Linked DNA regions of Homo sapiens: regions 1 and 3 are each linked to region 2. Evidence: fine-mapped expression QTL. A gene starts in region 2. Each other region holds a variant in brackets. All regions are shown on one strand. Distances are from middle to middle. Region 1 has its middle 190 kb from the start of STEAP4. Region 2 holds the start of STEAP4 (STEAP4 metalloreductase). Region 3 overlaps STEAP4 (STEAP4 metalloreductase).

What was found.
Region 1: its variant is fine-mapped to the expression of STEAP4 in monocytes after LPS (Fairfax 2014, PIP 0.95).
Region 3: its variant is fine-mapped to the expression of STEAP4 in whole blood (TOPMed, PIP above 0.99).

Annotation. Positions count from the first base shown.
Region 1 is chr7:88,498,131-88,500,902 of GRCh38, forward strand. No RefSeq gene overlaps it. Among named protein-coding and RNA genes, the nearest start is that of STEAP4, 190 kb to the left of the region's middle. The variant G/A (reference allele first, on the strand shown) is at 1,113.
Region 2 is chr7:88,305,527-88,308,298 of GRCh38, forward strand. It overlaps STEAP4 (STEAP4 metalloreductase), which reads right to left and starts at 1,368. Exons shown (of 5, transcript NM_024636.4): 1 at 1,266-1,368. The region is part of intron 1 of LOC124901692 (a long non-coding RNA gene); the gene reads left to right.
Region 3 is chr7:88,268,649-88,271,420 of GRCh38, forward strand. It overlaps STEAP4 (STEAP4 metalloreductase), which reads right to left. Exons shown (of 5, transcript NM_024636.4): 5 at 2,244-2,772. Among named protein-coding and RNA genes, the nearest start is that of STEAP4, 37 kb to the right of the region's middle. The variant C/A (reference allele first, on the strand shown) is at 1,185.

The DNA of each region.
Region 1 (2,772 bases), 190 kb after region 2:
AGTTTCAGTTTCCTTTTTTATAAAACAGACATCATTATATCACCTCGGAGAGCTATTGTGAGGAAAAAAAAGTAGTATTACATTAATACTTACAGTAGTTTCTGGAACGTAATAGGTATGATGTTAATTCTATTCTACCCTGATGCCCTGAGGAGTTATTCAAGATCCTGAGAATTTCCTTGCTGAGGATGTGTTTACACAAGGTCCACATTTCTTAGCTATACTGTGTTTTGGAGTCTAAATTTTTCCCCCCATTCTCTGTATACCTTTCTACTTTCATTCTGCTCTCCTTTTTGGTCAGTCCTATTGAGTTACATGGCCTTGATGATGACATCCACAGAAGACCCTGGTTTGTCTGTCTTTAGCCCTCATCTTCCTCTGGAGCTCTAGGCTCCTATTTGTATTATCTGTGGATATCTCACTTTAATATCCTGTCAACATATCTGAATAGGGGCCCCAAACTGAACTAATAACTTTTCCTTCCAAACCTGCACCACTTTCTTCGTGGCTTTTGGGTCAGTTTAACTGACTGTCCCAGAAAGCTTGGAGTTATATTCGATTCTTATCAGTACTCCTGTCCTTGATAGTCTGTCAGCCACAAAGTTCCATGGACACTGCCACCAGAAATCTCTCACTTTTATCCCATCTTTAACTTCCTCTGCCCTTAACAGGGCACAGATCTAGTTACCTTCCTCCATAATTATGGAGGTGACCTTTTACTTATTCACCTGACCTTCATCCATCTCTTCCCTTTTCAATCCATTCTTCACTCAGCTATGAGAGTTATCACAGTCTCAAGACTGTCGTTTCACTTGTCAGAAACTTCAATAACTATCACTTTCAGACCAAACTGTAAAACAGTAGTGTGGTATTAATATTTATGTCCTGATTTTGCCCAGACCTACTTTTTAAATAAAATTTCTTTAATTAAATATAAAACTTTTCAAACTTAGAGATAAGTATAAAGATTATGTAACAGAAACCAATATACTGGCTAATTAGAATTATAATTCATTGATATTTTCCATATTTGCCTCATATTTTTGTTATATTTACACATGTTTAAATAAAACCAAAGTCCTACCTCCTCATCCCTTTCCCCACCATCCCTG[G/A]TATCTACCAACCTTATTTTCCCCTTTCTTTGTCATACCCTATGCTCTTGGGGGGTAGTGAGGTGAAAGAGAGGTGATGTTTAAGGTGAGAAGATCTAGAGATGGTTCTCTAAGGAGATGATCTGAGCACACATGACTTCTCTCAGCACAAAACCTCCACGTTATTTATCATTTTATTCCTTAGAAGACGGAATCACTGTCTTGTGAGGAGTATGCAATATAACAAAGTGATTTCTAATCATGGCCATGACACTTACAAGCAAGGTACTTAACCTCTATAAATTTAGTTTTCTCATTTGTAGAGTGGGCATCTCCGTACCTACCTTAAGAATTGTGATGATGCCTTGAGATAATGTAGGTGAAGTGTCTGGATCAGAGTCTGCCATCTAGTAGGCGCTCAATAAATTGTACCTGTTAATGCTGTTAGCACAGCAACTGAGGAACTGGAATGGATCATAATAGACCAGATGATTCAGTGTTGTTCTCTTGTTGCAGGAGCACTGCCTTCTGAATGTGTGAGTGCCATAAATGTGCCCCTGAGATTTTTAGGGGATTATTATAAAATCCAGAATGTTTGGATTTGGTTTGATCTTAAAGCATGGCAAATTCTAAGTCTACCCATAAGCCTGCTCCCCTCCACCAGCCTCTGTGTCACCACAGAGGCTGAAGTGCGTTACTTTGTGCGAAAATGTCCAGTGGTCATTGCCTACAGGGAACTACGATGTAGTTGCTTCAGTAAAGGCGTTGCTACCTGCTACAAAGCAATCTCATATTCTCCGTTTTATTTAGCTTAATTTTTGTACTTGAGCTAGGAAATAGTTAAGTGGATTTCTCACGTATATCTTTGACTTGAATTATTTTGAAGTGACTTCCTGAAATAAGACATCAATGCTACATCTGCCACAGAGGAAAAAAGAAACCGTACATATATGAATGATTATAATCCTCGCCCAAGGCAGGAGTCTCCCAGCACGCCAGAAAAGGCCATAAATCCATGCGATATCCCTGACTACTGCATTTTACATCTAGGACTCAGAGTAACTGAAAGGTATGTAAAATTGTGAGCAGGCAGAAAGTGGGTTGACTATACATCTGGGAAAGTTCTCATGCATTGCTTATTCCAGGCTGTTCATCTTGTGCTCATGAAGTCTGGCACTGTAACGCTTGTGGTTGATGACAGGAGCTGAATAACTTGTGTGCAGCTGAAACATTTATCCTCTTAAGAAGCCTCTCATCTTTTAACTATTGGTTAAAGCCCTTCATAGACGACATAATACCCTATTAGTATGGGAATTAGAAACAATCCTTTTCTTGTTCTGATGTTGAAACTAACTCTTATATGAAGGACGATAGAACTTTCAGTGATATATATATATATATATATATATATATATATATATAACATGTATAATATATATAACATATATTTTATGTATATATATTACATGAAACCCTAACCATTAACATTTAAAAGATAGACAGATACAAACATTTCTCATGATTTAGGAAATTTTGAAAAATGTGTTGATGAAGCCAGCTCCCAGATAGCATTATACTAACTCTGAAAAGTCAGATGGTAGATAACTTGGGAAAGGATAGAAATCTCATCTGGATTTTTCACATTTGCTTACAATTCACAATAATTTAGGTTGAGAAGATG
Region 2 (2,772 bases):
AATAGGACATTCTCACATAGCAAGGCTGAAGAATGGTTTTGAAAGCTGAGAGTATTCTCTGAATGATAAATGTGGCAGAACTTTAAGATGCTCCTGTGGGAAGAGACTCTTCCCCCGACAACTGGAGAGTTTCCTTATAAAAATGGAACATGCATTATTATGAAAAAAGTAACCACTGAATTATAGTTGTAGCATTAAGGAGATTTTCTATGTATTTCAAACTTGCAGGCATCTTTAGTCACGGCTTTTCACCTTGTTAGAGTTGAACTTTCTGGATCATCTGGCCCAGTAGCCAGCCTTTTATTTTACATCTGTGGAAACTGAGGCTGAGATAATGAGGTTCTAGTTATTATAGAACTAGGAATAGTATTCTTCCTCCCCTCCCCCATTCTCTATCCAATTCACTTTCTCAGCTCACTGCAACCTCCACCTCCCAGGTTCAAGTGATTTTCCTGTCTCAGCCTCCTGTGTAGCTGGGATTACAGGCACCTGCCACCACGCCTGGCTAATTTTTGTATTTTTAGTAGAGACTGGGTTGCACTATGTTGGCCAGGCTGGTCTCGAACTCCTGACCTCAAGTGATCCATCGGCCTTGGCCTCCCAAAGTGTTGGGATAACAGGCTTGAGCCACCGTACCCAGCCTCAGTACACCAATCTTTTAAAGAAAGTTCCTAAATTACCATCTAGAGGTGGGAAAAAGAATAATAAAATTCTGTCTCTGGACAAACAAACGGAACTGAGGCTTTATTTACTCTTCACAATAAATTATATTCTGAACAATCTTCCTCCAGAAAAATAACCTTTAAATTGCAAGAGGAAATTTAAATCAAGATAAAAAAATGGAAGTGGTTGCAGGTATCAGGACAAATTTTTAGTGCCTGGTCAAGAAGCAGCCTCGGATCTGAGACCTTGGAGACTGACTGCTAAAGCCACATTCTTCCAGCCTACTTTTTGATGGGCGCCCCAAGAGTGCGCCAATCCAGAAGTAAGATGCAGAGAAGAATCTAACCCCTTAATTTTCCCCCTTTGGGCTTGTCTGCACCCTGGGGTAGGGATGAGCCTTAAACTCCAGGAAGTTAGAAGCTTGCTGAATCGCGGAGCAGCCTCAGGTGACTTTCCTCTAAAGTGATGCCGGGGCGCGGCGGGGAGTTTGCAAGCACCTGTTCTTCAGTGCGATGGGCTGGGGAGTGGGGTCCTAGCAGCAGGGACTGGAGGTGAGCTGAAGCAGATAAGGGACGGGAGCCTTGTGGCGAAAAGTGACCCACCTGAGGGAGAGGCGCTTCCAAGGAGGAAGCGTCCAGCGCCAACGGTGCGCGCCGCGGGCCGGGCGGGTAGAGGGAAGTTTCGCCGCGCCTGCAGCTCAGCGCTGTGGCTTGTGGCTCTCGCTGCTATAAGAAGCCAGAGAAGGGCGGGACGGTCTGCTGGATTTCGCAAGAGAAGCGGAAAAGAACTTGTTTCCTGGAAGAGTTCAAGCTGAGAATCCCAGCAGCTGGAAGGACCGGAACTTCTATACTGCGGTGCTGCTGATGGTGCCGCTGACCCCCGGGAAGCGGGGATTTTAAGGGTTACACCCGAGCCCTTGGCATCTGTGCATCCCAGGGTGATTGAGGTTTGGAGAGGTCTAGGAATCCCCCTTTCCTAAAGGAGCAAGAAGGATCTCTTTGAGTAGCTGAGAAAACAGCACCTGGACTAGGCTTCTAGGCAATTCTTTTGCCATCTTGTCTCAGTTTATAGAAAAGGTGGTATCTTTCCCCTCCGCCTGGAAGCCATGGGTTCTTATGGGGCTCATAACTTGGAAGATCTTGAGTTTTCAGGTCTTAATTTAGGTAGATTAAAGAAATAAAACAAATGAAAGAGGGATCGGGATACCTTATGATATACATGCAAATGTGTCTTTCTACAGAGAAGGTCAAAAACCACAGCCCTGGTTGTTTAAGATTGAAATAATCCTGATAAACTATGGGGCAAAGCATCCATACACTCCCAAACTCTGTAATCTAAATCCCAGAGTCTTCCCAATGATCTCCACTCAGCCATGGGTCTTAAATTCCACAGCATACGCTTGCCAAGCTCCAGAGGCCCGGCCACATGGGAGGCCTGTTCCTCCCATGGAAAGGGGTTGTTGAGTCAACCTTCCCTTTGTCTGGATTGCAACTCTCCTCATAGCTTCTTGTGGGGTTGGTCAGACCCCATGTCTTTCAAGAGGTCTTTTCTTAGCCATTAGTTGCAATTAATATTTTCTTTCTCTATACAGTAGTTTATACTTTTAGCACAGCAATTAAGACAATTTGCCTTTCAAAAGAGTTATTATCATGTGTGTGTGTCTTGTCCTGGACTGCAGTCTTCGAGGGATGACACCCTAGTTTTTTCAGTCTGGAATTTTCCATAACACCTAGCAAAATGCATTACTTAACAATGGGGATTTATTCTGAGGAATGCCTCATTAAGCAATTTATTAAATATATTCTGAGGAATGTCTCATCAAGCAATTTCGTCATTGTGTGAACATCATAGAGTGCACTTACACAAACCTAGATGGTATCACCTACTACAGGCCTAGGCTAGATGGTATATAGCCGATTGCTCCTAGTCTACAAACCTGTTCAGTATGCTACTTTTCTGAATACTGTAGTCAGTTGTAACACAATGGTAAGTATTTGTGTATCTAAGCATAGAAAAGGTATAGTAAAAATGTGGTATAAAAGATAAAAAATGGTATACCTGTATGGAACACTTACCATGAATGGAGCTTACAGGACTGGAAGTTGCTCT
Region 3 (2,772 bases), 37 kb before region 2:
AATTGGCGAAACTATCTGTTGAGGATTATATTTGAGTGAAAGGGTTAATAAATGTCATAATTATTATCTAATGTTATTAACAAAAGTTATTTATTTTGCTGCTTTTCTGCCTGTGATGCTTTGTCAGTTAGGTTCTCCAAGAAGCAGGTACCAAGATAGGATGGGAGATTTATTGGAAGAAATGACTTAAAGGATAAAGGAGGAGGGAGCCTTCATATTGCAATGCTGGTCTTACACGTGCAAAAGATGAAGGCAAGGGAAACATTGGATAGGAGGAGATCCAGATCATAGTGCAGATGTGAAAAGGTCTTGGCTGGCCCAGTGGGAACATCCAAGCAAATGCTGCCCATTAGAGGAAGCTCATATGAGGCAATGATCCATTAGAGGAAGCTCATATGAGGCAATGATCCATTAGAGGAAGCTCTTTTGAGGCAATGATGGCTTTGTTCTAGTATCTCTGTTATGCATGGTCATTGCCTGGGAGCAGCCCAAGGGCAATGTGGATCATGTGAATAACGTGGTGCTTATCAATAATGTGGGCCAGTTGAAAGTTGTTTATTTGTTATGTTTCCTTGCAGCAGGTTCTCTTGAAGGAACATCTGAGTAGGTCATCTTCCATGACTGCCACTGATGTCTACTTGGTATTTTTAGCCAGTTTTATAAAAACTATTTTTATTGTAAAATTATTTTATATTAAAGCAGTTTTAACAGTCTTCTTCATATGGGGAAGAATTCCAACAGAGATGAAATAATGGACAACTTTTTGTTGTTGAATATTCCTAAAATGTTTACTAAGACTTTAAATATTATTTTAATGAGAGAACGTTAAAGAAGGGGAAAATGTTGTGTATCATTCTTTAGAATTCCAATAATCACAGTCAGCCTAAATATACCACTAGATAATTCTGTTTCTTTAGTCTCTGTCATGTTTTTTAAAGGCAAAGTACTCATCACAGACTGAAAAGTCCAAAATTGTCACTGGATATACCTGTTTCGGATCAGCCCTTTTGACCCCCATTTTTTTTTGGATCTACAACCAGCTTGTTTTCAACTTAATCACCTGATTTCAAAAGGATCGGAAAAAACCCTAGCCTGAAAATCAGTCATCTGTGGTCCAATTCTGCTTTGTTGCAATGTAGCTATGTGACCTTGCAGAAATTACTTCACCCTCTTGGGTTCAGTTT[C/A]CACATCTGTGAAATGAATGTATACTATTAGATAATCTCTAGGCTTCATGTAGTCTAAAAAACACTATAGTTGGAGTTGGAGGTTATGGATAACGTTTCTGTATTTCCTATCAAAAACTAAAATAAAGACATGGAGGCCATGTTTAGGAAATATGTGTAGAGCATATCTTTTGGAAAAGGGAATTAATATTTAAAACAATTTTCTATGCTGAAGGATAGGTTAATTTATATGAGATAAACTTTAATAAGAATATGGTGAGTGCTTTTTTTTAAGTAAACCTTTTATTTTAGAACAATGTTAGGGTCATAGTATTTTAAAATAATTTTAGATTTATAGCATTATTGCAAAGACAGTGCAGATAGTGCAAGATATTTTTGCTTTGTACTTAGGTTTAAAAATATTAATGGTAATCAGTGTAGGGTGGATGGTTTGGTGGTGGAAGGGGGCAGAGATGGGGCTAGAGGGGCAGACTATGGAGAGACTGGAATTAATGCTTTATGTGAAAAGAAATTAGGCATATTATTTGATGTGATCCTGAAATTTTGCGACTATAAAAATTTACAGTGAACATGTACACTAAATTAATAGAGACTCACAAGTTAGAATAACAGAAGCAACAATCACGTTATACTCTAAACCTGCACCTCAACTGGAGTTATATTTTTGATGCCTACTTGCTATTTTTAGCCAGTTTTATAAAAACTATTTTTATTGAAAATTTATTTTATATTAAAGTATTTTAAGTCTTTTTCATATGGGGAAAAATGCCAATACAGATGAAATAATGGACAACTTTTTGTTGTTGAATATTCCTAAAATGTCTACTAGGAATTTAAATACTATTTTAATTACAGAATGTGAAAGAAGGGAAAAATATCATGTTTTTGGTTTAGGGAACTGTGTTTTAAAAGGAACATTGAAATGTTTGTAGATCTGAACAAGAGGCACCAGAAAGATGAAAGATTTAGAAATTTTTATACAAGAGAAAACAGTGAATGTGCTGGTGTTTAGCGTAAGATAAGATTTAGCAGGGATATGCAATCAATTACTTTAAAAAATTTTTTGTTTATAATTTTTTAATTAAAAATTTTTAATTGACACACGATAATTATACATATTTATGGGGTACATAGTGACATTGCAATACACAAAATATACAGTGATCAGATTAGGGTAATTAGTATATCCATCATCTTAAGCATTTATCATTTCTTTCTGTTGAGAACATTCAATATCCTCCTTCTAGCTATTTAGAATATATATTATTGTTAACTGTAGTCATCCTACAGAGCTATAGAACACTACAACTTAATCTTCCTATCTAGCTGTAATTTTGTATCTTTTAACAAATTTCTTCCTATCCCCCATTACCTTTTAAATTAAATTTATTTTAATAATTAGGTAACCTACTCATGTAATTTAAAAACCAAAATGATATGAAAAGGTCTACAGTGCTTCTACTCCTGTCACTACTCCTCTGTTCTCCCATCTTGTTTGGTATGGATCTTTTGAATCCTTCTGAGAGTTTCTTTAGGCAATTAAAAGCAAATACACATATGCAAAAGGAATCATACTATATATGTTATT